Linked DNA regions of Homo sapiens. The protein of the gene in region 2 purifies or fractionates together with the protein of the main gene of each other region. This does not show direct contact. Each region holds a gene or a part of one and is shown on either strand. Other genes may lie near its edges.

What was found.
Region 1: the proteins of MPI (region 2) and PITPNB fractionate together in Homo sapiens (co-fractionation; one large-scale study listed by BioGRID). This does not show direct contact.
Region 3: the proteins of MPI (region 2) and NECAP2 fractionate together in Homo sapiens (co-fractionation; one large-scale study listed by BioGRID). This does not show direct contact.
Region 4: the proteins of MPI (region 2) and NECAP1 fractionate together in Homo sapiens (co-fractionation; one large-scale study listed by BioGRID). This does not show direct contact.
Region 5: the proteins of MPI (region 2) and FAM185A fractionate together in Homo sapiens (co-fractionation; one large-scale study listed by BioGRID). This does not show direct contact.
Region 6: the proteins of MPI (region 2) and TKFC purify together in Homo sapiens (affinity purification with mass spectrometry; one large-scale study listed by BioGRID and IntAct). This does not show direct contact.
Region 7: the proteins of MPI (region 2) and ADA purify together in Homo sapiens (affinity purification with mass spectrometry; one large-scale study listed by BioGRID and IntAct). This does not show direct contact.

Annotation. Positions count from the first base shown.
Region 1 is NC_000022.11:27,912,757-27,916,256, forward strand, and holds part of PITPNB (phosphatidylinositol transfer protein beta isoform), read right to left. Parts: intron 1,592-3,500; coding exon 1,561-1,591; intron 1-1,560. UniProt on the Homo sapiens protein: Catalyzes the transfer of phosphatidylinositol and phosphatidylcholine between membranes. Also catalyzes the transfer of sphingomyelin.
Region 2 is NC_000015.10:74,896,542-74,900,041, reverse strand, and holds part of MPI (mannose-6-phosphate isomerase), read right to left. Parts: intron 3,032-3,500; coding exon 2,823-3,031; intron 2,531-2,822; coding exon 2,312-2,530; 3' UTR 1-2,311. UniProt on the Homo sapiens protein: Isomerase that catalyzes the interconversion of fructose-6-P and mannose-6-P and has a critical role in the supply of D-mannose derivatives required for many eukaryotic glycosylation reactions.
Region 3 is NC_000001.11:16,454,224-16,457,723, reverse strand, and holds part of NECAP2 (adaptin ear-binding coat-associated protein 2), read right to left. Parts: intron 1,907-3,500; coding exon 1,831-1,906; intron 1-1,830. UniProt on the Homo sapiens protein: Involved in endocytosis.
Region 4 is NC_000012.12:8,092,274-8,095,327, reverse strand, and holds part of NECAP1 (adaptin ear-binding coat-associated protein 1), read right to left. Parts: intron 2,653-3,054; coding exon 2,544-2,652; intron 2,457-2,543; coding exon 2,273-2,456; intron 1-2,272. UniProt on the Homo sapiens protein: Involved in endocytosis.
Region 5 is NC_000007.14:102,800,999-102,804,498, forward strand, and holds part of FAM185A (protein FAM185A), read left to right. Parts: intron 1-3,500.
Region 6 is NC_000011.10:61,336,228-61,339,727, forward strand, and holds part of TKFC (triokinase/FMN cyclase), read left to right. Parts: exon of another isoform or gene 1-22; coding exon of another isoform or gene 23-163; intron 164-1,713; coding exon 1,714-1,903; intron 1,904-2,838; coding exon 2,839-2,949; intron 2,950-3,026; coding exon 3,027-3,208; intron 3,209-3,500.
Region 7 is NC_000020.11:44,624,200-44,627,699, forward strand, and holds part of ADA (adenosine deaminase), read right to left. Parts: intron 2,401-3,500; coding exon 2,257-2,400; intron 1,486-2,256; coding exon 1,370-1,485; intron 131-1,369; coding exon 3-130; intron 1-2.

The DNA.
Region 1 (3,500 bases), on a different chromosome or scaffold from region 2:
GGATCACTTGAGGTCAGGAGTTCGAGACCAGCCTGACCAATATGGTGAAACCCGGTCTCTAATAAATATACAAAAATTAGCCAGGTGCGGTGGCGGGTGCCTGTAATCCCAGCTACTAGGGAGGCTGAGGCACGGAGAATTGCTTGAACCCAGGAGGCGGAGGTTGCAGAGAGCTGAGATCGCAATACTGTACTCCAGCCTGGGCGATAGAGCAAGACTCCATCTCCAAAAAAAAAAAAAAAAAAAAGGTGGGGGGGGGAGTATAACAAAAAGCCGAGAACAGTATTTTCAGTGACAATACCAAGACTCAAAAAGATTTCGACAAGCTGATTCAACCAGCTGAAATCAAAAGAAAAAGTCTAACAGAAACAAGTGTCAATTTCCACATTCAACTTCAAACAATCAATTGTGCAAATAGAGAACAGGGTGCCTAGCTTCTCTGGAGTGTTTTAATACAGTGAATCCTCCTGAGATATAAACAACTGTGTTCAAGTCTACACTAAACAGTGCCAGACAGCTACTCTTTTTCACTTCCTGCATTTCTTTCTGTCTTCTGTCAGCTGTCACTTCTTAGGTTATCAGTTTGTTTTGTCCCACTTCCAAGTCACTGCTTCTAATCTACTGTCAGCTCTAGGAAAACCAGATAACTGAGCAAATGGGAACTGTGTGCAAGTTACAGAAGAGCCTAGAGGGTTTTATGGGTTTTGCTATATATATCTTGATTTCTCAGAAGCTGTTTCTGCTCTTATCTTCATTCTTGTCTACAATACACATGGCTATAACTGCAGGACATGCAAGTTCTGAATAGGTGATATATTTCTGTATCATGTCCAGACTGAGGAAAACAATAAGCTCTTACAGTTGTGTGCTGTTCATACCATGTCTGGAATACTGTTTTCAGTTCAGATCAACAATTACAACACATATAGTAACAGGACCAGCTGGTAGCAAGTCCACATATCATGCTGTATTAAGCCAAGTGAATGTGCTGGGAATGTTTAACCTTGAGACTTTCTAAGATGAAATAAAAGTGCTTGTGGGGGATGGGGTTGGCTGGAGGGGAGAGCTGCCATCAGAAAACCTGAAGGATTAACCACTACAAGACAGAACAGGCTTATTTCCCATTGCTCAAATGGGATAAACTGTAAACAAGAGTCAAGCATTATAGGAAAAGCAGATTTTGGTTCAAACACAAATGTTTAAAATGTCCAACAGTAAAGTAGGCTGCTTCTCTAAGCAGCAAGCTACTTAACCTTAAAGTACTTAAGTTGAGGCTGGAGCCTCATTTCTCTGGGATGTTGGAGAAAGAATTCCTGCACTAGACAGGAGGTTAAACTACATTCTTTAGACTCTTCCAAAACAAGGCAGTGTAGCAAGAAATTCATTATCATTCATTTAATTCATTTTGCAATTCTTTGCAATTATCATTCATATAATTAATTTTGTCACATAAGGTGGAATGAAAAGGTAAATCAATACTACGAAAATGTGAGTTTAGAGTAACATATCAAAGTACAGTACATATACCAATAAAATGATGCAGAAGCAAGAAAAACTCACCTCCTGAACAGAACATGGCAAAACCACACGGCTAAAAAGACAAAAGAAAAAATATATATATTACATATGAAATAGCTTTAAACACAGATCTCTGAAGAGGTTTTACCTTAAATCCAATGATAACAGAGACAGGTCTCTTAAATCAAAAAAATACAAGGGTGTCATTTATGGAAGAGGGTCTTTGCAATGCCTACACCATAATTGGGGAACTAAAACTATCATTCCTGGGTCTCAATGATCATTTGCATTTAGTGTTCCCAGGACCCCAAACAGCAGCTGCAGAGATTCTTGTGAGTAAAGAAAAAAGAGAAAACTCAACATTGAAAATTGCAGGGTACAGAACGTATTATTTGCAGATTGTCTGGTCAGGTTGCCCTGACTAAATTTTTAGTATGGTTTCATTCTCCACCTATATACTGTGCATTTTGTTTTTATGATGCTTCTTACAGAATACGTGTCTTGAATCTCATTGAATAAACGCTTCCAGAAACTGTTCCCCCACTATTCAATTATTCCTCAAGTTTACTAAGAGAAAAATAAGGAGTCGTGTAGAATTAGTAAGAAAAATTTTACTATGGAAACTACTTGAACCTTATAATAATCCCTTCCAGCATATATACAATATAAGGTTGACATGTGTTTCATCCTGTCCAAGAGTTTCTTATTGTATATACCAAAAAGATGTCATTATAGCTCCATTGCAAGCAGTCTTAAAAGATAAAATCCAAAACAGTATCATGGTATATTGTTTTATCAAAATATTGCATCTTATCTCTAGATTTTATAAGGAGAGTCCTTAATTTATTTCCACCATAAATCCTGAAAACCAAGAACATCCCTGTATATCAATGGTCTCATAATTATAGTTGGTTCCAAGACAGCAACTTCCTTTTTTGTGGGATGGGGGTATACGATCCTTCTCATACTTTCCTAATCTTATCTGTCATTTTATGGAAAATTTTCAATAGTTTTCCTCATTCCAATTTCTTTTCAGCTTATAATTTCTTTTTCTTTTTTTCTTGCAGTAAGAGTCATTTAGCTTATTGTTTGTATTAGTGACAATCTTTTTGGCCTAGGCATTCTTTTTTAATAGTCTTTCTTATTCGTAAGTATGAAGAGAGTAATAAAACCCAGATTATATCTAGTTTGCATTCCAGCTACACTTTCCATCTACTCCTTTCTCCCTACTCTCCTCAAACATCTATGTCTGAATGTTCACATTACCTCAATCTCCAACATGCACAAGTCTGTTACTCCCTCCCCTTTGACTACTGAGTTACTCGCCACTCTTTGTCTTTCTGGTAACGGTGATTCAAAAACAATGAACACTCTCAAATCCACAATGGTCACTAATTTCTACTCTCCATCAAGAATAAACTTTTTGTAAGTCCTTCTATACCTAAAAATTCCGAATCATTTCTCTTCTCAGTATACACTAACTTGCTCACTGTCCCAGAGCATAAAATGAGGGAGAGGAAGACTAGAAAGCTATAGGTTGGGAGCAGATTATCAGGACCTGGAATACTATGGTAAGAAATCCATTAAATTCATCAGGCAATAAGGAATCCCAAAAGGTTGGTCCAAGAGGTAAGTGACAACTACTGCTGACCTGAAGAAGTCATCTGCAGGTGGTTGAAAACACTGACAAGCAGGAGAAGTGGGGAAAGCTATCTTTTGGGAGGCTAGGCAAGAACTGTCACAAAGGCCTGAACCAAGATGATGGACTGCAGAGGGAATGGAAGGAAGGGATAGAGAAAGAAGAGTTAGTCTTCCCTTAAGTTTCACAAAACCAAAGAATCACTGCTGAGTAATTTTACACTCACTAACAGGAAGATCCCTATTTTTATTTAAGAACACTTTCAAGGAAATTCTTTCAAAAAATTAAAGTGACTGATTAAGACATTCAGAACAATGAGTCAAGTAACTTCTTCAAGATTTGC
Region 2 (3,500 bases):
TTGCACTTCTACAGCTCTGTACATTTATAAGAATAAATGCAATCACACTAGTTGAGCTGTGTCTGTGTTGCAGTGGATTTTAAAGGCCTTGGCCAGGCACAATGGCTCATGCTTGTAATCCCAGCACTTTCAGAGGCTGAGGCAAGCAAATCACAAGGTCAGGAGTTTGAGACCAACCTGACCTTACCTGGAATTGTAGATCCTGTCACCCCGTCTCTACTGAAACCCCGTCTCTACTAAAAATACAAAAACTTAGCTGGGTGTGGTGGCAGGCGCCTGTAGTCCCAGCTACTCAGGAGCTGAGGCAGAAGAATCGCTTGAACCCAGTGGGCGGAGGTTGCAGTGAGCTATCGCGCCACTGCACTCCAGCCCGGGAGACAGTGCGAGACTCCGTCTCAAAAAAATAAAAGTTAAGAATATCCTGGATATCCTGAAATGAAGAAATAGCTTAACAGCTGACTACAGCAATTCCTTCTGGAAACTCCCTCCCCTTTCTGCTGTTCCCACTGGGCATCACTTTCGGGCCTGTTTCACTGGACGGCATGAGTGAAATAGGCTCTTGCAAGTCACTTCTGTAGAATGGGTTCCCTTTAGCAGACCTTTTCTTTCCAGCTCATCTTTATTGTTTTTTAGCTGAAGAAAATTTGGAGGCAAGAAAACCCAGGAGATTTTTGAAGGTGGTTTCCTGGAACTCCATTGTATAGGGACTCTAGTGTGGGCAGAAGCCCAGAAAGATTCTTTTGCATGAATTTAAACCTTTATCCCACAGGAAGGAGCCAGTGGACTAAGTGATTAGTCTGTGGTGACAGGATCTACGATTGCAGGTCAGAAACCTCAGCAGCAGCAGACAGCCGACAGCCTCTTGCAGGTGTGTGCCACCCCTGGAGCAGGGCATCAGGAGATTCCCTCCTTCACACTTCCTGCCCGTTTAGGAAAGCTAACTGGGCTTCTCCTCGCCATGAAAATTGTCTAATTCGGTTCCTGAGTCCCTGTAATCTGCAACAGTTGAGTATGTTGTAGAGAAGTGGTTGACAGTCAATGGTTTCAGTTTTGCAGGCCGTACAGTCTAGTGCAACTCTTCAACTTTGCCACTGTGGCTTGAAAGCAGCCAGACAGTATGGAAATGAACAGGTATGGCCAGAACTGGCCTGCCAGCCTGGTTTGCGGACCCCTCCTCTAGGGCCAGTTGAAAAACAGGAGCCGGGCCAGGCGTGGTGGCTCACGCCTGTAATCCCAGCACTTTGGGAGGCTGAGGTGGGCGGATCACGAGGTCAGAAGATCGAGACCATCCTGGCTAACACAGTGAAACCCCATCTCTACTAAAAATACCAAAAAAATTGGCTGGGCGTGGTGGTGGGCGCCTGTGGTCCCAGCTACTTGGGAGGCTGAGGCAGAAGAGTGGCGTGAACCCGGGAGGCGGAGCTTGCAATGAGCCGAGATCGTGCCACTGCACTCCAGCCTGGGCTACAGACCGAGACTCCGTCTCAAAAAAAAAAAAAAGAGAAAAACAGGAGCGAAGAGTCTTGCACTGGTGACTGGTGTATCCTTTGAGTCACCTTCTCTGTAGGGCTGCTTGCAAGCTGTGCCTCTGGGCAGACCCAAGGCCTGCTTGCAAGCTGTGCCTGTGAGGCCAAAGCTGGCTTCCTCTCCCACTCCTTCCCATACCGGTGTTCTGGAGTGTAGCCTGCTCACTCCCCCGAGAAGCTGTATGAAATAGGAATAAAGCAAAAACTGGGGCATCATGTAGGGAGGGCTCTTTTGGCCCACTTTAGGAACAGGTACCCCAAAGGCTGAGTGCTCATTACCCCACAGCCTCAACACAAGTGATCTTTAATTGCTTTGACAGAACAAGGGTGTAAACAGCGTTAGTCTACAGGCCTACCCTTTCCCTTTCCTCCTCTGCAGCTGAGGAAATGGGCAGTCCCATCGCTAGAACCCTGTTCTTAGAAATTACCTGGTCTCTTGCTCTGACAGATGCTGAGCTAATGCTGGGTCACATATTTAACAGCTAGCCTAAAGCCATAGGCTGGAACAGAGTTGGCAAGAGCCTGGCTCAGGTGTAGCGAGGAGTAGAGAGGGAAGACAAAGGGAGTATCAGACCCCTCACACGGGCCTCTCCTCCCCAAAGATGGTTCCACCTGGGTGTGTTCAGGAGTCACTACCTTCACGCTCCCTCCTCCCCCACCCCAGCTCTTCCAGGGTATACCTAAGGGGTCCAGAGCAAGGAAGGGGGCTTGAGCTGGGCCCGAGGAGGTGAGGTTGGCTGGAATTTAGGGTGGCTGGCAGAGGAGAGCTGGGGAGGCTGCAGCCTTTACAGCAGACAGCAGGCACGGAATATCAGCAGGTCCTTCGGCTCAGTAAGCTTCAGTGAGACACTCTCATTGGCCCCAATGAAGAGCACGCCACCACGTTGCAGAGGGATTGGTGTCTGGGTTGTGGGTGTGCTGGCTATTACTGTCCCCTGTACCATCAGGAGGATGCTGGCAGAGTCCAGTGCCAAGACCTTGTATTCAGTGACAGAGCCAGGGACCTGGGCAGGAAGAAATGATAAGGCAGTGCAGCTCAGACTCTGCTCTCATCAGCTCATGGGCCCAGGACAGTCCCCAGGGCACGAGGGAGAGCTCTGCCACCTTCTCGCACAACCCAGGCTCAGTCAGCATAGAGGCCTGGTCCCTGGTACAGGAAGGAATGGGCAGGCCCTGGGGCCACCCTCCGCCAAGTGGGCTTGACAGGAAACCCAGCCCCAGGTGTCCTCCACATCGTGACCCTTGCCAGAGATTTTCATGGCACACGAAGGACACCCATCATAGCCCCTCACTCACCTCCGTCTTCATAATGGTGAAGTCTGGTACAGGGGGGTCATAGATTGAGAGGTAGGGGTCTTCCTGACTCCGTGTTGGGAGAAAGAGCCTGTCCTTGCTGGAGCTAGGGGTATAGCTGAGCATTTCACACAGGGTTGGCACATCAATGAACTTGGGTGTCAGGCCAGCACGAACTGTGTTGTCTGAACACGCCATGCACTCCACGCAGTCTGGAGAGACAGTCGTCATGTGCTAAGCTGATGAAGTATGCCTTAGCTCTCCAGTTCTGGGCCTCCTAACCTGAGCTCCATGAACCCCATGCCAAGTTAGGTAAAAATTTCCATGAATTGTATTCTCTGGGAGAATGGGGTTAAGATATCAAATACCAAAAACAGGTGACAGGTCACCCATTATTGTCAGAGGGGAGTCATGTTAACCCCTGGGGGTTGGGGAGCCCCAACTCTGTAGTCTCCCACTTCTACCCCAGAATCCTGTGCATGAGGCATGTGTGGATAAGCAGCCAACAGTCGAAAGGTGGCATCCTTCCATGGCAACATGCATATTTTAGTGTAAAAATCCCTGGTAGGTAGGACAGACATACAAAGGCTGTGACAGAACAACAGCTTTGATCCAATATAGCCTGCGTTCAAATTGTGGTTCCCACACTGACTGGCAGGACTTAAAATCAGAGTAGCATGG
Region 3 (3,500 bases), on a different chromosome or scaffold from region 2:
AAAAAAAAAAAAAAAACAGAATTACTATATTTTGTAAATGGAAATACCACTATTAAAAACAGAATGCTATAAATAGAATGTCTTTTGTTCCAAAGCTGATATACTAGAGCGATGCAAAAATAATATAAAAGCAATACATTTTGTGGCAAAGTTATCTCAGGGTCAACGCTGCAGTCTGAAGTGCCACTGGCAAGTTTTCTCAGGGCAAACAGGAAAAGGGTTACAGTCCTCATTTCACGCCTCTGTTTTTTTTGTTTGTTTATTTGTTTTTTGAGATGGAGTCTTGCTCTTGTGACCCAGGCTGGACTAGAGTGGCATGATGTCAGCTGACTGCAATCTCCCGGGTTCAAGCAATTCTCGTGCCTCAGCCTCCCAAGTAGCTGGGATTACAGGCACCACCCCACCACGCCCAACTAATTTTTGTGTATTTAGTAGAGATGGGGTTTGACCATGTTGGCCAGGCTGGTCTTGAACTCCTGACCTCAGGTGATCCGCCTGCCTGGGAATCCCAAAGTGCTGGGATTACAGGCATGAGCCACCGCGCCCAGCCCATGCCTCTATTTTTGTAAATAAAATTTTACTGGCACACAGCCATGCTGATTTATTTACATATTGTCTGTGGCTGCTTTTGTGCAACAAGAGCAGAACTGAGTAGCTAGAACGAAGACCACACGGCCTGAATAGTCTAAACTATTTGCTATCTAGTCCTTTACAGAAAATGTGGCTGGGCACACTGGCTCGTGCCTATAATCCCAGCACTCTGGGAGGCCGAGGCAGGCAGATCGCTTGAGCCCAGGAGTTCAAGGCCAGCCTGCGCAACATGGCAAAACCCCGTATCTATGAAAAAATACAAAAAATAGCTGGCATGGTGATGTGCACCTGTAGAGCCAGCAACATGGGAGAATGTGGTTGCAGTAAGCCGTGATAGTGCCACTGCACTCCAGCCTGGGTGACAGAGAGAGACCCTGTCTCAAAACATGAAAAGAAAAAGAAAATGTGTGCTGACCCCTGTCCTAGAATCTGTCCATGTAAATAATAGTGCAGTAGGAATTTAGTATCTTTTCACCCTGGCCCCAAGTAAAGTCTTGAGATCTTATGGAATCAGAGAAGACAAGCCACCTAGCCTCAGGCGTTCTATGAGGATGGGCTGAGGCTGGAGCCTGGGTCTGAACTCTCAGTCCACTATTTTGGGGAAGGTGGGGGATGGGGTATAGAAGAAGGAGGTACTGGGGACAAGCCAAAGCACTTGGGAAGGCGGTTTAAAGGCCCAGATTTGCAAAGGGTTGCCCCAGGCTATATAGCACTGGAAAGCAGCAAAACCTCCACGGAAAGACGTGTGCCACCCAAAGCAGGCACGCTGGGGCTCTGTCCTCTGGCTAGCTTGAAAACATCCAAATCAGGCCAGGCGCGGTGGCTCATGCCTGTAATCCCAGTACTTTGGGAGGACGAGGCAGGTGGATCGCCTGAGGTCAGGAGTTCAAGACAACCCTGACGAACATGGTAAAACCCCATCTCTACTAAAAATATAAAAAATTAGCCAGGCGTGGTGGCAGGTGCCTGTAATCCCAGCTACTCAGGAGGCTGAGGCAGGAGAATAGCTTGAACCTGGGAGGCAGAGGTTGCAGCGAGCCAAGATCATGCCATTGCACTCCAGCCTGGGCAACAAGAGCAAAACTCCCTCTCAAAAAAAAAAAAAAAAGAAAAGAAAACATCCAAATTAAAACTGTTACTCCTAATCCTAACACCAGAAGGCAGGCATGTGGAACAATACCAGGTTTGTAGAGCAACGGCCCTGGCCCCAGCCCCTCCGCAGAACATGGCCCTCCTTACCCTGTAGATTTGGTAAAGTCTCCCCAGATGTCAGCAGTGGCAGGATTGGGCTGTGGCCAGGGTACAGGAGCACCTCCTATTGATGTTCCCGAGTCCGACCCGTAGGAAGAGAAGAGGGGACAGAGAAGTCAGAGACCTTTCTGGTTGTTTCAATGACCAAATCATGAGACTCAGTGATCAGTCTCATGACACCAGGTAGCTGGGAAAGCCACACCAGACATGCTTTTGGGCAACCAAACACCCTGAGTTGCCACACTTCCAGCATCTTCTCACCAGCCCTTGTGCGCTCTGGAGAAAACGCAGAAAGCCACATACAAGGTGGAACGAGGGGTGCCCGCGGGATGGGTGGTTAGTCTCACGTCATCTAACATGCATACCTGAAGCTGACTTTGTTATCAACCATTTATGTTGAAATCTATTTAAAATTTACTATAACCCGTCTTAGCTTCTTGAACGGAGAATGTCCACCAAAACCGCAAGATCATCTTCATATCAAGCCTGCACTACCATGTCTGGATGAACTGGCTGAGAACACTACGTGCCAGCCACGTGCCAAGTCCCAGGCCCCAAACTGGTTAGGGGTCAGGAAGAGCATTCCAAAGAGCTCACACAGAAGCTCAATCCTATCTCTCCACCAAGGTAGGCGACGCCATGGGGCTGCAATGCCTGCTTTTGTGCTTTTCAGGCACCTCCCCCAGTGCTGCCAACTGCCCTTCTGAAGGGCCTGTGTTTGCCACCCTCCACCTTGGCACTAAGTTGCTATTTCTAATCTGCTCTGGGCCAGGAGAACAGATAAAACTAGGGCCCTCAATGGTTTAGAGTTTTACAGTTCACCAAGTGCTCAAGGCACATTATCTTCTGTGAACCTCACCCCAGCCCCTAGGGAAAGACAGATTGGGATGAGCCACGTGACTGTGCAGGTCATTTCAGTTTCCATTCTCTTACCTCTAAAATGCTGAAAATAACAGGAACTACTCCATAGGACTGGTGTGAAGATTAAATATCCACAGAATGCTTAGAACAGGTCCAGCATATAGTGGCAATAACGATATTAATAAAATGAGATCTAACATTCAGTGAGCACTTAGAATGTTCCAAAAATTGTTCTAAGTGCTATACATAAATCAGCTTATTTGATCCTCACAAGAAACTTATATTTTAAGTATCATTACTTCCCCTATCCTACAGATGAGAAAAATGAGGCATGGAGAAGTGATTTTCTAAAGATCACAAAACTGGGCTGGGCACAGTGGCTCAGCCTGTAATCCCAGCACTTTGGGTGGCTGAAGCAGGTGGATCACCTGAGGTCAGGAGTTCGAGACCAGCCTGGCCAACGTGGTGAAACCTCTGTCTCTACTAAAATTACAAAAATTAGCCAGGTATGGTGGTGCATGCCTGTAATGCCAGCTACTTGGGAGGCTGAGGCAGGAGAATTGCTTGAACCCAGGAAGCGGAGGTTGCAGTAAGCTGAGATCATGCCACTGCACTCCAGCCTGGGCAACAGAGTGAGACTCCTTCTTAAAAATAAATAAGTAGGCGAGGTGCGGTGGCTCATGCCTGTAATCCCAGCACTTTGGGAGGTCAAGGCGGGAGGATCACCTGAGGTCAGGAGTTCAAGACCAGCCTGACCAACATGGAGAAACCCCGTCTCCACTAAAAATACAAAATTA
Region 4 (3,054 bases), on a different chromosome or scaffold from region 2:
GCAGTGAGCCGAGATTGCGCCACTGCAGTCCGCAGTCCGGCCTGGGCGACAGAGCGAGACTCCGTCTCAAAAAAAAAAAAAAAAAAAAAAAATCTTGGAGATGAGAATTTATGTTTGCACAAAAATCTGTATACAAATGCCACGGCAGCTTTATTCATAATGGTCAAAAACTGTAAACAACCTAGATGTCATTCCATGGGCAATAGTTACACACACTGGTATATCCATACCATGGAATACTATTCAGCAATAAAAAGAAACAGACTATTGACACACAACTTGAATGAATCTCAAGGGAATTATGCTGAGTGGGAAAAGCCTGTCCCAAAGGTTACATGCTGTATGATTCCTTTCATAGAACATTCCTGAAGTGACAAAATTATAAAGATGGAGAACAGACTGGTGATTGCCAAGCGTTAGGAATGGGGGAAGAAAGGATGAGAGGGAGATGGGTGTGGTTGTGTAAGGTTGACACAGGGGATCTTTGTAGTGATTAAACTGTTCTATAACCTGAAATGATGGTGGATCCATGAACCTACACATGACAAAACTGCAAAGAACTGGCCAGATGCAGTGGCTCACACCTGTAATCCCAGCATTTTAGGGGGCCAAGGCAGGAGGATCACTGAAGTCCAGAAGTTCAAGGCCAGCCTGGGCAACGTAGTGAGACTCTGTTGCTACAAAAATTAAAAAATTAGCTTGGTGTGGCAGTGTGCACCTGTAGTCCCAGATGTTTGGGAGGCTGACGCAGAAGGATCTCTTGAGCCCAGGAGTTTGAGGCTGCAGTGAGCTATGACTGCACCACTGTACTCTAGCCTGGGCAACAGTGTGAGACCCTATCTCAAAAAATAACAAAAAATCCTGCATAGAACTAAATATACAGATCCACACAAATATACACAGATGAGAACATGTAAAATGGTGTAAGCTGAGTAAGATGAGAAAGTGGTATCAACATCAATTTTTCATTTGTGATACTTGACAATAGTTCCACAAAATATTACCAATTGAGGGAAACTGGGAAAAGGGTAAACAGGATCTCTTCATATTATTTCTTACAACTGCATGTTAATCTACGATTATCTCAAAATAATAATTTAATTTAAAAAAAATCTTAGATACTATCCCCAGTGGCTTCTGGCAACACTTACCAAAAGAAGCAGGCTATAATATTTTCACCTCAAAAATTCCAGAAAGAGAAAGCTTACCCTTAGTAATCAATTCAACAAATTATCTGCACTGTCCAATACATTAAGTTAAAATTCTCAGATTCTAAGACACAGTTCTCTAATCTCAGAAAAATTCTTTTCTCAGTTCCAATGCTCTCATTTTTCAAATGAGAAGATATAACCATATTTATTCTTTCTCCCACCAAACAGAAAGAAAGAATGAAAGTGTATGGACAAACCTAGATATCTTCTTTTCTCCCAATTGCTCTTGTGAAGAAATGGGAAAGTTTAATAACATTTACTAAATGCCTACTATGTTCCAAGTGCTATGCTAGGTGCTGTCAATCATTTAACCCTCATGACCTTGGGGTGGTAATTATTTTATTTTATCTATTTATTTATTTATTTATTTTTGTTTGTTTCTTTGTTTTTTTATGAGACAAGGTCCCACTCTGTCACCCACACTGGAGTACAGTGGCACAATCATGGTTCACTGCAGCCTCCCAGACTCAAGCCATCCTCCCACCTCAGCCTCCCAAATAGCTGGGTCTACAGGCGTGCACCACCACGTCCAACTAATGTTTGTATTTTTTTTGTAGAGATGGGATTTCATCATGTTGCCCAGGCTGATCTCAAACTCCTAAGCTTAAGCAATCCACCCACCTCAGCCTCCCAAAGTGCTGGGATTACAGGCATGAGCCAAGGTCCCCGCTGGGGTGGTTTTACATCTCCAGTTTGTAGATAAGGCAATTGAAACTCAAAAAACTTAAGTAATGTTTACCAAGCACATTCAAATATAAAGTAGCAGAGCCATGACCAAAATCTTGGTCCATCTGACTCAAAAGCTTATAAGCATCTAACCAAGAAAAAAATGAAGGAAATTGTCATTTTAATAAGCAAATATTTTCTGCCAAAGAACCTATGAGATACTATGACTCTTAGTTCACTAGAAAAGCTTTGATTCCTTGCTAGAAGCTGACAGAATCACCTTGTCAGTACCATGAGCTATTTCATAGCAAAAACATTAACTCTCCTTGACAAACAGGTGTTGCTTAATTAAAACATAAGATTGGATTTCTCAAAATTAGAAGTACTAGATTTACCTGCATCACTGCCTCCATGGTTAGATTTCGGAATGGGTGGTGGGGTGACATGATTGCTGATGGCAACTGAGGAGGATGGTGGGGGAATAGTGACTTTGCCTCCTGGCGGGGGTGGGAGTAAGCTCAGACCCCCACCCCTTGCAGTCCTGGGCTTAGAAGCACCTCCTTTCTTGTTTGTAATGTTCTACAAAAGAAAAAAAGAAGAGCAAGAGAAAGATGTCATAGGCTTATGGAAGCACAGGAAAACAAAATTTTTAAAAACCATACTCACCCCGATACACAACTTGATGGTTTGTCCTTCCTTGAAGCCCAGATCCAACTTAGGACGAGCATCCATTTCTTGAGATTCCTTGGAAATCTCAGATTCCTGCTTTACCCACCTTTGGGAACACAGCAAGTTATCTTAGTTTGAGATTTCCTGAAAGCAGAGTCTGACATACAAATTTGGGTGTATTTACTTTTATGAAATGAGATTCCAGAAAACACAGTGAGAGATAAAAAAGAGTGAGAAACAGAAGGGAAAAAAGCCAAGAAAGAAAACAACTGGGGTTCAATTCCACTGGGGACTCTCTGAGAAATCTCACGGAATACGTATTAGAATTGCCCCTTCCAGAAGGATGGTATTTAGCCACCAATTCCCATTCCCCACAGTTGAGGGCTGCTCCTGAGGGGGTGTTAGTTTCTTAGTCTTTCCAAGTTAAAGCTTGCTCTTAGCTTTCTATAACTTCAGAGAGTCCTAAGGCAGAAAAGGAGAGATATGCTTGCTCTTGAGGTAGGAAGCT
Region 5 (3,500 bases), on a different chromosome or scaffold from region 2:
ATAAAGGAAAACCTATCAGATTAACAGCAGATTTTCAGCAGAAACCCTAGAAGCTAGAAGGGATTGGGGCCCATCTTCAGCCTTCTCAAACGAAACAATTATCAGCCAAGAATTTTGTATCCAGCGAAACTAGGCATTGTGTATGAAAGATACAGTCTTTTTCAGACAAACAAATGCTGAGAGAATTCACCACTACCAAGCCACCACTACAAGAACTGCTAAAAGGAGCTCTAAATCTTAAAACAAATCCTGGAAACACATCAAAACAGAACCTCTTTAAGACATAAATCTCACAGGACCTATAAAACAAAAATACAATTTAAAAAAAAAACAAAAAAACAAAGTACACAGGCAACAAATAAAATGACAAATGGAATGCTACCTCATATCTCAATACTAACATCGAATGTAAATGGCCTAAATGCTCCACTTAAAAGATAAGAACTGCAGAATGGATAAGAATTCACCAACCAACTATCTACTGCTTGAAGAGACTCACCTAACACATAAGGACTCACATAAACTTAAGGTAAAGGGGTGGAAAAAGGCATTTCATGCAAGTGGACACCAAAGGTGAGCAGGAGTAGCTATTATATCAGAAAAACTAACTTGAAAGCAACAGCAGTTAAAAAAGACATAGAAGGGGCCAGGTGCAGTGGCTCATGCCTATAATCCCAGCACTTTGGGAGGCTGAGGCGGGTAGACTGCCTGAGGTCAAGAGTTCAAGGCCACCCTGGCCAATATGGTGAAACCCTGTCTCTACTAAAAATATAAAAATTAGCCAGGCGTGGTGGCGGGCACCTGTAATCCCAGCTACTCGGGAGGCTGAGGCAGAATTGCTTGAACCCGGGAGGCAGAGGTTGCAGTGAGCTGAGATCACGCCATTGCACTCCAGCCTGGGCCACAGAGGGAGACTACGTCTCAAAAAAAAAAAAAAATACAAAGAAGGACATTATATAATGCTAAAAGACCTTGTCCAACAGGAAAATATCACAATCCTAAACATTTATGCACCTACCACTGAAGCTCCCAAATTTATAAAACAGTTACTAATAGACCTAAGAAATGAGACAGACAGCAACACAATAATAGTGAAGGACTTCATTACTCCACTGACAGCACTGGACAGGTCATCAAGACTGAAAGTCAATGAAGAAAAAATGGATTTAAACTATACCTTGGAACAAATGGACTTAACAGATATATACAGAACATTCCATCCAACAACTGCAGGATACACATTCTATTCAACAGCACATGGAACTTTCTCCAAGATAGACCATATGATAGGCCACAAAATGAGCCTCAATAAATTTAAGAAAGTTGAAATTATATCAAGCACTCTCTCAGACCACAGTGGAATAAAACTGGAAATCAACTCCAAAAGGAACCTTCAAAACCATGCAAATACATGGAAATTAAATAATCTGCACCTGAATGATCACTGGGTCAAAAACAAAATCAAGATGGAAATTTAAAAATTCTTTGAACTGAAGGACAATAGTGACACAGCCTATCAAAACTTCTGGGATACAGCAAAGGCCACTTTTCCTCCTAAGAGGAAAGTTCACAGCCCTAAATGCGTACATCAAAAAGACTGAAAGAGCACAAACTGACATTCTAAGGTCACACATCAAGGAACTAGAGAAACAAGAACAAACCAAACCCAAACCCAGTAGAAAAAAGGAAATAACCAAGATCAGAGAAAAACTAAATGAAATTGAAACAAACAAACAAAAAAATACAGAAGATAAAAACAAAATGCTGGTTCCTTGAAAAGATAAATAAACTTGATAGACCATTAGTAAGATTAACCAAGAAAAAAAAGAGAGAAAATTCAAATAGCCTCAATAAGAAACAAAATGGGAGCAGAAATACAAAAGATCATTCAAAGCTACTATGAACACCTTTACGCATATAAACTAGAAAACCTAGAAGAGATGGATAAATTCCTGGAAAGATACAAACTTCCTAGCTTAAATCAGGAAGAATTAGATACCCTGAACAGATCAATAACAAGCAGGAGATTGAAGTGGTAATTAAAAATTACCAACCAAAAAAGTCCAGGACCAGACTGATTCATAGCAGAATTCTACCAGACATTCAAAGAAGAATTGGTACCAATCCTATTGACACTATTCCGCAAGACAGAGAAAGAAGGAACACTCCCTAATTCATCCTATGAAGCTAGCATCACCCTAATACCAAAACCAGGAAAGGATACAACCAAAAAAGAAAACTACAGGCTGATATCCCTGATGAACACAGACGCTAAAATTCTTAACAAAATACTAGCTAACCGAATCCAACAACATATCAAAAAGACAATCCACCATGATCAAGTGGGTTCCATACCAGGGATGGAGGGATGGTTTAACATATGCAAGTCAATAAATGTGATACACCACATAAACAGAATTAAAAACAAAAATCACATGATCATCTCAATAGATGCAGAAAAAGCATTAGACAAAATCCAGCATCTCTTTATGATTAAAACTCTCAGCAAAATCGGCATACAAGGGACATACCTCAATGTAATAAAAGCCATCTATGACAAACCCACAGCTAACATAATACTGAATGGGGAAAAGTTGAAAGCATTCCCTCTGAGAAATGAAACAAGACAAGGATGCCCTCTCTCACCACTCCTCTTCAACACAGTACTGAAAGTCCTAGCCAGAGCAGTCAGACAAGAGAAGGAAATAAAGGGTATCCAAATTGGTAAAGAGGAAGTCATACTGTCACTGTTTGCTGATGATATGATTGTTTACCTCAAAAACCCTAAAGACTCCTCTAGAAAGCTCCTAGAACTGATAAAAGGATTCAACAAAGTTTCCAGATACAAAATTAATGTACACAAATCAGTAGCTCTTCTAAACACCAACAGCAACCAAGCAGAGAATCAAATCAATAACTCAACCCCTTTTACAATAGCTGCAAAAAAAAATGAAGTACTTAGGAATATACCTAGCCAAGGAGGTGAAAGACCTCTACAAGGAAAACTACAAAACATTGCTGAAAGAAATCATAGATGACACAAACAAATGGAAACACATCCCATGCTCATGGATGGGTAGAATCAATATTGTGAAAATGACCATACTGCCAAAAGCAATCTACAAATTCAACACAATCCCCATCAAAAAACCACCATCATTCTTCACAGAGTTAGAGAAAACAATTCTAAAATTCATATGGAACCAAAAAAGAGTCCCATAGCCAAAGCAAGACTAAGCAAAAAGAACAAATCTGGAGGCATCATATTACCTGACTTCAAACTATACTTTAAGGCCATCGTCACCAAAACAGCATGGTACTGGTATAATAATAGGCACATAGACCAATGGAACAGATTAGAGAACCCAGAAATAAACCCAAACACTTACAGCCAACTGATCTTCGAGAAAGCAAACAAAAACATAAAGTGGGGAAAGGACACCCTTTTCAACAAATAGTGCTGGGATAATTGGCTAGCCACATGTAGGAGAATGAAACTG
Region 6 (3,500 bases), on a different chromosome or scaffold from region 2:
GCTTAGCCCTGGCCCTGGCTGGATGCAGGACAGGTTGGCAGGGAGGCAGCAGAGCCAAATTTTGTACAAAGGAGCTGGTGCTAGCAAGCTCAGGAAGAAGCCACAGCCGGAAGTTCACCTTGCCAGGACCTGGCTCAGCTGCAGGTTCCCACCGGGCCACCAGGTGGCGGTGGGAGCCCAGCCCTCTGAGTCCACGTTGGGCCCCAGTCTCACTCTGTCTTCAGGACAAAGCCAGGGGCTGCAGCCCTTGTTCAGCAGACTCTGGCTTTTCACAGCCTGTTTGAAAAAGGGAGTAGCTTCATTTGATTGAGTTTCCACTATATCATGGGCATATACTCTGTTCTAGTAAATCCCTATTTTACAGAGGAAGAATTTTAGCTCCCGACAATGATGTATCTTCCCTGAGTTCCTGCAGCTAATGAGAGGCAGAAGTGGGATTTGAACCCAAGTCCCTGTAACAGCAGAGCTCAAGCCACACTCCATTCTGGCCCCCACGCTACTCACTTCTGTCTGCACCCTGTATCCACTCAGCCAAGCCTGGCGGCACTGCTCTGTAACCCTCCACCAGCCTGTCCACAACCCCTCCTGAGGCTGCCTGTGGCCAGTCCTCTCCTCCCCACCCCTTCCTGCTGGTCACCCGTGCTTCCTGGCACCACCACACTATTCACTCATCCAGGCCTTGGCTTATGCTCCCCCTCTGGCTGGAAGAGCCTCCCTTTTCCCTCCTCCCATGTCTCCTGCCCCCTTTTTCCCTACCCCGGTCCTGCTTATCCTTCCCAGAGACCTCCAGGCCCCTCGGGAGGCTGCGGCCCCTCCTCTATGCTCCCATGGTGCACGTGCGCTCCTCGTGTAGCAGTGCCCACTACACATGGCTGTGACCTCTGCTGTGTTTCCACTGAGGGCAGGAACAGCATTGTTATCTCTTTTTTTATTTCCGAGATGGAGTCTCACTCTGTCACCTAGGCTGGAGTGCAGTGGCACGATGACAGCTTACTGCAGCCATGACCTCCCAGGTTCAAGTGATCCTCCCACCTCAGCCTTCCGACTAGTGGGACTCCAGGCATGCACCACCATGCCTGGATCATTTTTCATATTTTTTGTAGAGATGGAGTCTCATCATGTTGCCCAGGCCGGTCTCAAAGTCTTGGACTCAGGCGATCTGCCTGCCTCAGCCTCCCAAAGTGCTGGGATTACAGGCATGAGCCACTGCACCTGAGCTGTTATCTCTACACATAGTGTCTAGTGCTGGGCCTGGCATACCAAGAGGCTGGGGAAATGTTTGCCCCGCGTTGGAGCACCAGGGAGCAGCGGTGGCTGTGGAACCTGCTCAGCTCCTCCCCCAGCATAGGAGCCTCAGCCTGAGGCTTTTCTTCCTTTTGACAGAAGAAGGTGTTGGGCCCCAGTTTTATTAAAATATTTTACACTGCAGGCAACCACTCCCCCATTTTCTTTGTATTGCAGCCATTTTTTCAGAATAAATTGAAGGTATGGTGCAAGACACTTCATAAATTAGGTACTGAATAGAAAGTCACACATTACTGAAAACTCACAGAAATACCCACCTAAGATGTCGCCCAACTCAAGGAAGTCCTGTGCTCCTGGAGTTCCTAGGTGGATGCGGGAGAGGGGTCTACACCACAGCAGTGTGGCTGCGCAGGATGGGGGTATCTGTACTGACCACATTCTGACCTCCTTCTCACTCCTCCCTTGCAGACCTCCAAGAAGCTGGTGAACTCGGTGGCTGGCTGTGCTGATGACGCTCTTGCTGGCCTGGTGGCCTGCAACCCCAACCTGCAGCTCCTGCAGGGCCACCGCGTGGCCCTCCGTTCTGACCTGGACAGCCTCAAGGGCCGGGTGGCACTGCTGTCGGGTGGGGGCTCTGGCCATGAGCCTGCCCATGCTGGTGAGTATCCTGGGGTGGGGCAGGGGGTACTAGTGGAGTGGACAGGGCCTCCTGGGGGATCCTTAGTGCTGCCATGAAGTGCAGGATGGAGCTCAGCCCAGAATCAGGAACTGGGGTACTTCCCACTCTCCCACTCCCTCCGGCTGGGATCAGGGGCCCATCACGGCCTCTCTGAATCTGTTTCTACATCTACAAATCTACGAAGTTGGGCCAAACAATCTCTCAAGTCCTTCTAGCTCTGAGAGTCGGTGATTCCATGAATCTTCTGGACCCTCCAAGCCCAGCAGACCCACCCCGATTCCATGAAGGCTTCCTGACTCTTCCAGCCTACAGCAGCACCCCTCTTCTGAATTCCCACCTGCTGTGTCCCACTTGTGGACTGTCCTGGCTTCTTTCCTGTGTGGAGCCAGGGACGCAGACTCTCCTTGAGGGCTGCTGGAGGGCAGGGACTAGGATGCGCGTCATTTCTCTGCTTCCTGTCTTCCTTCAGCAAAATCCATTCATTTGGCAAACACTCATGAGCCCACTGTGTACCTGGCGCTGTACTGGGCACTAGGGATACCAGACAGGCAAGGTCCCTGCCCTCGTGGAGCTTATATTCTACTTAGGGGAGACAGACAATAACCAAGTAAACACGAAAGTAAATGAGATCATTTCAGAGGGTGCTAAGTGACTTAGTAAAGACAGTAAAATGGGGCAAAGGAACAGTGAGTCCCTGGGGAGGGAGCTGGTGACTGCTTCAGGCTGGGAGGTCACAGAAGGCCTCTCTAAGATGCCTCCTAAGAAGGAGTCAGCCATGTGAAGACCTGGGGGATCTTTGAGCACCAAGCACACAGTAGGGCTCACCAAACCATGACCCCCGGAGTGTGGGAAGCCCCAGTGACTACAGGCGCGAGTCCCACCCAGCATGCTCACTCCACTCCTTCCACCTCCAGGTTTCATAGGGAAGGGGATGCTGACTGGGGTCATCGCGGGAGCTGTGTTCACCTCCCCGGCAGTGGGCAGCATCCTGGCAGCCATCAGGGCCGTGGCCCAGGCCGGCACAGGTAAGCCTGGCATGCAGGAGGGGCTGCGGCAGGGAGGGCACAGTAAGCACACTGAGCCCTTCCGGCTGCTCCCGCAGTGGGGACGCTCCTTATCGTGAAGAACTACACTGGGGATCGGCTCAACTTCGGCCTGGCCCGGGAGCAGGCCCGGGCTGAAGGCATCCCGGTGGAGATGGTGGTGATTGGGGACGACAGCGCCTTCACTGTCCTGAAGAAGGCAGGCCGGCGGGGGCTGTGCGGCACGGTGCTTATACACAAGGTGGGCTTCCACCGGGGACGTGGAGACTGGCCAGCCCTTTCCAGCCTTCCCTTGCCTGGCAGCACCCAGTAACTGGACCTTTCCAGCCCTTCCCCAAGAAGCTAGTTCTTTTTCTCCAGTGTTCCCTGATCTCAGAAGGCCCCGCCATCCCCTCAGCTACCTAAGCCCAGATACAGGCATTTTCCCAGACTCGTCCCCTTTTCTTCTCCACACCCAATCAGTTGCCCGGTCCTGGTGCTTCTCCTCCCAAATGTACAACACACATCCTTCTCAGACCCCGCCCTCCTGCTTT
Region 7 (3,500 bases), on a different chromosome or scaffold from region 2:
ACCTGGTAGGCCTGGACATGTCCAGGCAAGAGGCTGCTTCCTGGGATGGTCTCATCTCCAGCCAGGTCAATGGCTACCACGGTCTGCTGCTGGTACTTCTTACACAGCTCCACCACCTTGGGGGACCAGTCTGTGGGCGAGATGCCCACCCAGGCTCTGTCACCAGCACCATGGAGAGACCTCCCAGCCTACCTGCCTGCTGTCCCACCCAAACCCCCCATGGGAGGCCAGCACAAAACAGGGCTCAGTGTCTTCAAATCCTAACTGCTATGTCCTAACCACATGGCCTGCGGAAAACTGCTCTGCTTATGGCCTCAGTTTCCGCCCTTTTCAGAAAGAACCCTGCCAGCTATTGCACAGGGTCACGGCCAGGCTTTGCCGAGGCCATGTGTGTAAAGCACCAAGGACGGGGCCTGAGCTCAGTAAATGACACGGACCCTTCTCTCACCTGGTGTTTCCAACAACACTCATGGTAGGCTTATTCCCATGCGCAGATGAGGAAACGGAGGACCGTTTAACACGTCATCTAAAATAGAACTCACACTAGTATTGGGAAGTATCTCGCTAATGTATTAGGTACTCTTAACCAATAAAGTTATTCTGAAGTGTTTAAGAAAGAATGAATGAACACAGGCTTTGGAACTAGATGTCCCCGGATACAAATCCAGGGTTTGTGCCTTGCAAGAGGCTGCACCTCACTCCACCTCAGTTTCCTCATCTGTCAAATGGGACTAAGCAATGGTAGTTCTGCTTTGCAGGCTGCTGCGAGGATTAGAGGAAATGCGTGCAGGTAGCTCTTTGGTTCTTACTAATCCTGAGGGTAGAGGAATGAAGTAAGTGTGATCATCTCCTTGTGACAGTGCACAACTGAGGTGTCTTGGTGCATAACCAGAGCAGCAGTGTGACCTGCCCAATATCACACAGTGAGGCTGTGCACCATGAGGCACAAACTCTAGAGATCTGATCTGCGTCAGTGACAAGGGAGACCCCTCAGAAATCTTGGAAATCAGACCTATTCAGGCCCAGACAGGATGGGGCCTGGTCCACTGGGTCTCGAGGGAGGACTATGGGCTGATCAGAATCTAGCCTAGATTTTTTTTTCAATAGTTACGTTCCTATTTGGTGTTGAGCTTCCTGCAGGGTGGCTATAAAGGCATGGTGTCCCTGGGGAGAACATCTCCAGAAGTTCTGAGCCTGCCTAGGAGGTCTCCAGTTGTTTCATGAAGCCCCAAGTTCATGCCAGTGGGCTCAAGGGGACACCATGGGGCTGTGGGGCACAGGGGAGATCAGGTACAGCCCCACTGCTAGGCCAGGAGGTCAGGGCCAGGGTGAGACGGGCGGCCCTGGGCAGGGCGGTGATCCTACTCACTGGGCTGGTGGCGCATGCAGCACAGGATGGACCGGGCCTTGACCCCGAAGTCTCGCTCCCCCTCCTGCAGGCCCTGGCCCACTAGGGCCACCACCTCGTCTGGGGTGAGGTCCCCTCTGTGTGAGGAGAGGAGTAGGGATGGGCCTGAGGCAAAAGGAAGGCCTAAAGGGCAGCTCTGGGACTGGGACAGAGGAGGAAGAGGAGGCTTTGGGGAGGACCCTCCTCCCCCACTGACCCACTGCCTCAGAGGAAAGACTGGCAGAGATGCCCCCAGGCCCTAGCATGTCCCTCTAGCTCTTAAAGCAGCTGGGTGCTCCTAGATCTTAGTGGGAGGTGTGGGGTGTCAACATGGCCCTCCCCACCCCCAGATGGACAGCATTGCTAAGCTTGGGCCTGCCATGATGTTCACATTCTATATGTATCAGAATCATGGCTCAGAAAATGGGGCAGGGTGGTTTTGTGATACCACTTAGAGATCCATGGGGGCCCAGGCAGGGGGCTAGAAATGGGCCAGACTCACTTCAGTTATGAAGTTAGAGCAGGACCTTTAGGGCCTTTAGAGATCTGATCAGCATCAGTGACAAGGGAGACCCCTCAGAAATCCTGGGTGGCTAAGCAGGTTAACATTCCTGGACAGCAGGCCTGTGGCCAGAGCAAGACACAGCCAAACACTTGTGCCCAAGGTAAGAACATAACGGCAAAGGGAGGATGGGAACCACGTCTCTTGTGACAGAGTTAAACCCATCTTTCTGAGGCCATGGACCAGACTGGGGGCAAGAACAAGGTCTTGCTTGGGTCAGGGATTCCCAGCAGTTCGCCCTTCCAGTCTCAGAGCTGAGCCTCCCAGCCACACCCTCAGCATGGCCCCTTCCAGGCCCATCACTCACTCAGCCTGGTTCCAGGGGATTGGCTCCACTTTGGAGTTGGCCAGCAGGTGCGGACTGTACCGCACCTCCACATACACCACGCCCTCTTTGGCCTTCATCTCTACAAACTCATAGGCGATCCTTTTGATAGCCTCCCGGCAGCCCCTGGGAAGGGAAGAAAGGGGTTGGGAACAACCTTCCCCAAGTCCCTTGGGAGCTCCAGGAGCAAATGACATCCCCAACCCTTGGCAGATTAAACCCACTTCATCCCCCAGACCCAAGCTCTGGGCATCCACTGGATAAGATCCCAGACACTGGGCAAGTCCTATCAGCTCTACTTTGGAACTGCATACCAGTTCTCACCCCTCCATCCTGGCCTGAATCACGCCATCTCTAACTGGCCTCCCTGTCTCCATGCTTGCCCCTGTCATCCTGTTCTCCACCCAGCAGTTGGGGCAATCTTTTAAGAAGGTAAATCAAAGCATATCACTTCTCCCCTCGAAGCCCCAGTAGCTTCCTGCCACGGAGAGTGACATCGCAACTCCCAGGTCCTGCCCACAAGGCCTGCATCCTCCAGGCCTTGCCAGCCTCCCCAGCACCTTCCTTCTCCCTCATTCCCTGAGGCCACCGGAGAAGACACAGGCCTGCTCTTCCCCGATACTGTCCTACACTGCGTCTCTCCCGCTCCCCTGGTTTAGAGCCAGCTGAAGCTTCACCTCCTCAGAGAGGCCTTCCCTGACCACCTTATCTTTTTTTTTTTTTTTTGAGACAGAATCTTGCTCTGTCGCCCAGGCTGGAGTGCAGTGGCGCCATCTCAGCTCACTGCAGCCTCTGCCTCCTGGGTTCAAGTGATTCGTCTGCCTCAGCCTCCCAAGTAGCTGGGATTACAGGCGCATGCCACCACGCCCGGCTAATTTTTTGTATTTTTAGTAGAGACAGCGTTTCGCTGTGTTAGCCAGGATGGTCTCGATCTCCTGACCTCATGATCCGCCCACCTCAGCCTCCCAAAGTGCTGGGGATACAGGCGTGAGCCACTGTACCTGGCCCAGACCGCCTTATCTTAAAACGGCCCCTCCACCATTCTCCTGGGCTTTCTTTTTCTCCCAGGTCCTTATCACTACTCAACATTGTGTGTCATATGGCTTATCAGCCAGTTTGCTGTATTCCCTACTAGAATGCAGTCTCCATGTGGCAAGGACCCCTCTGTCTTGGGATGGCTGCGACCTCTCAGCTGAGGACCATGCCTAGGACAGAGTAGCCCAATA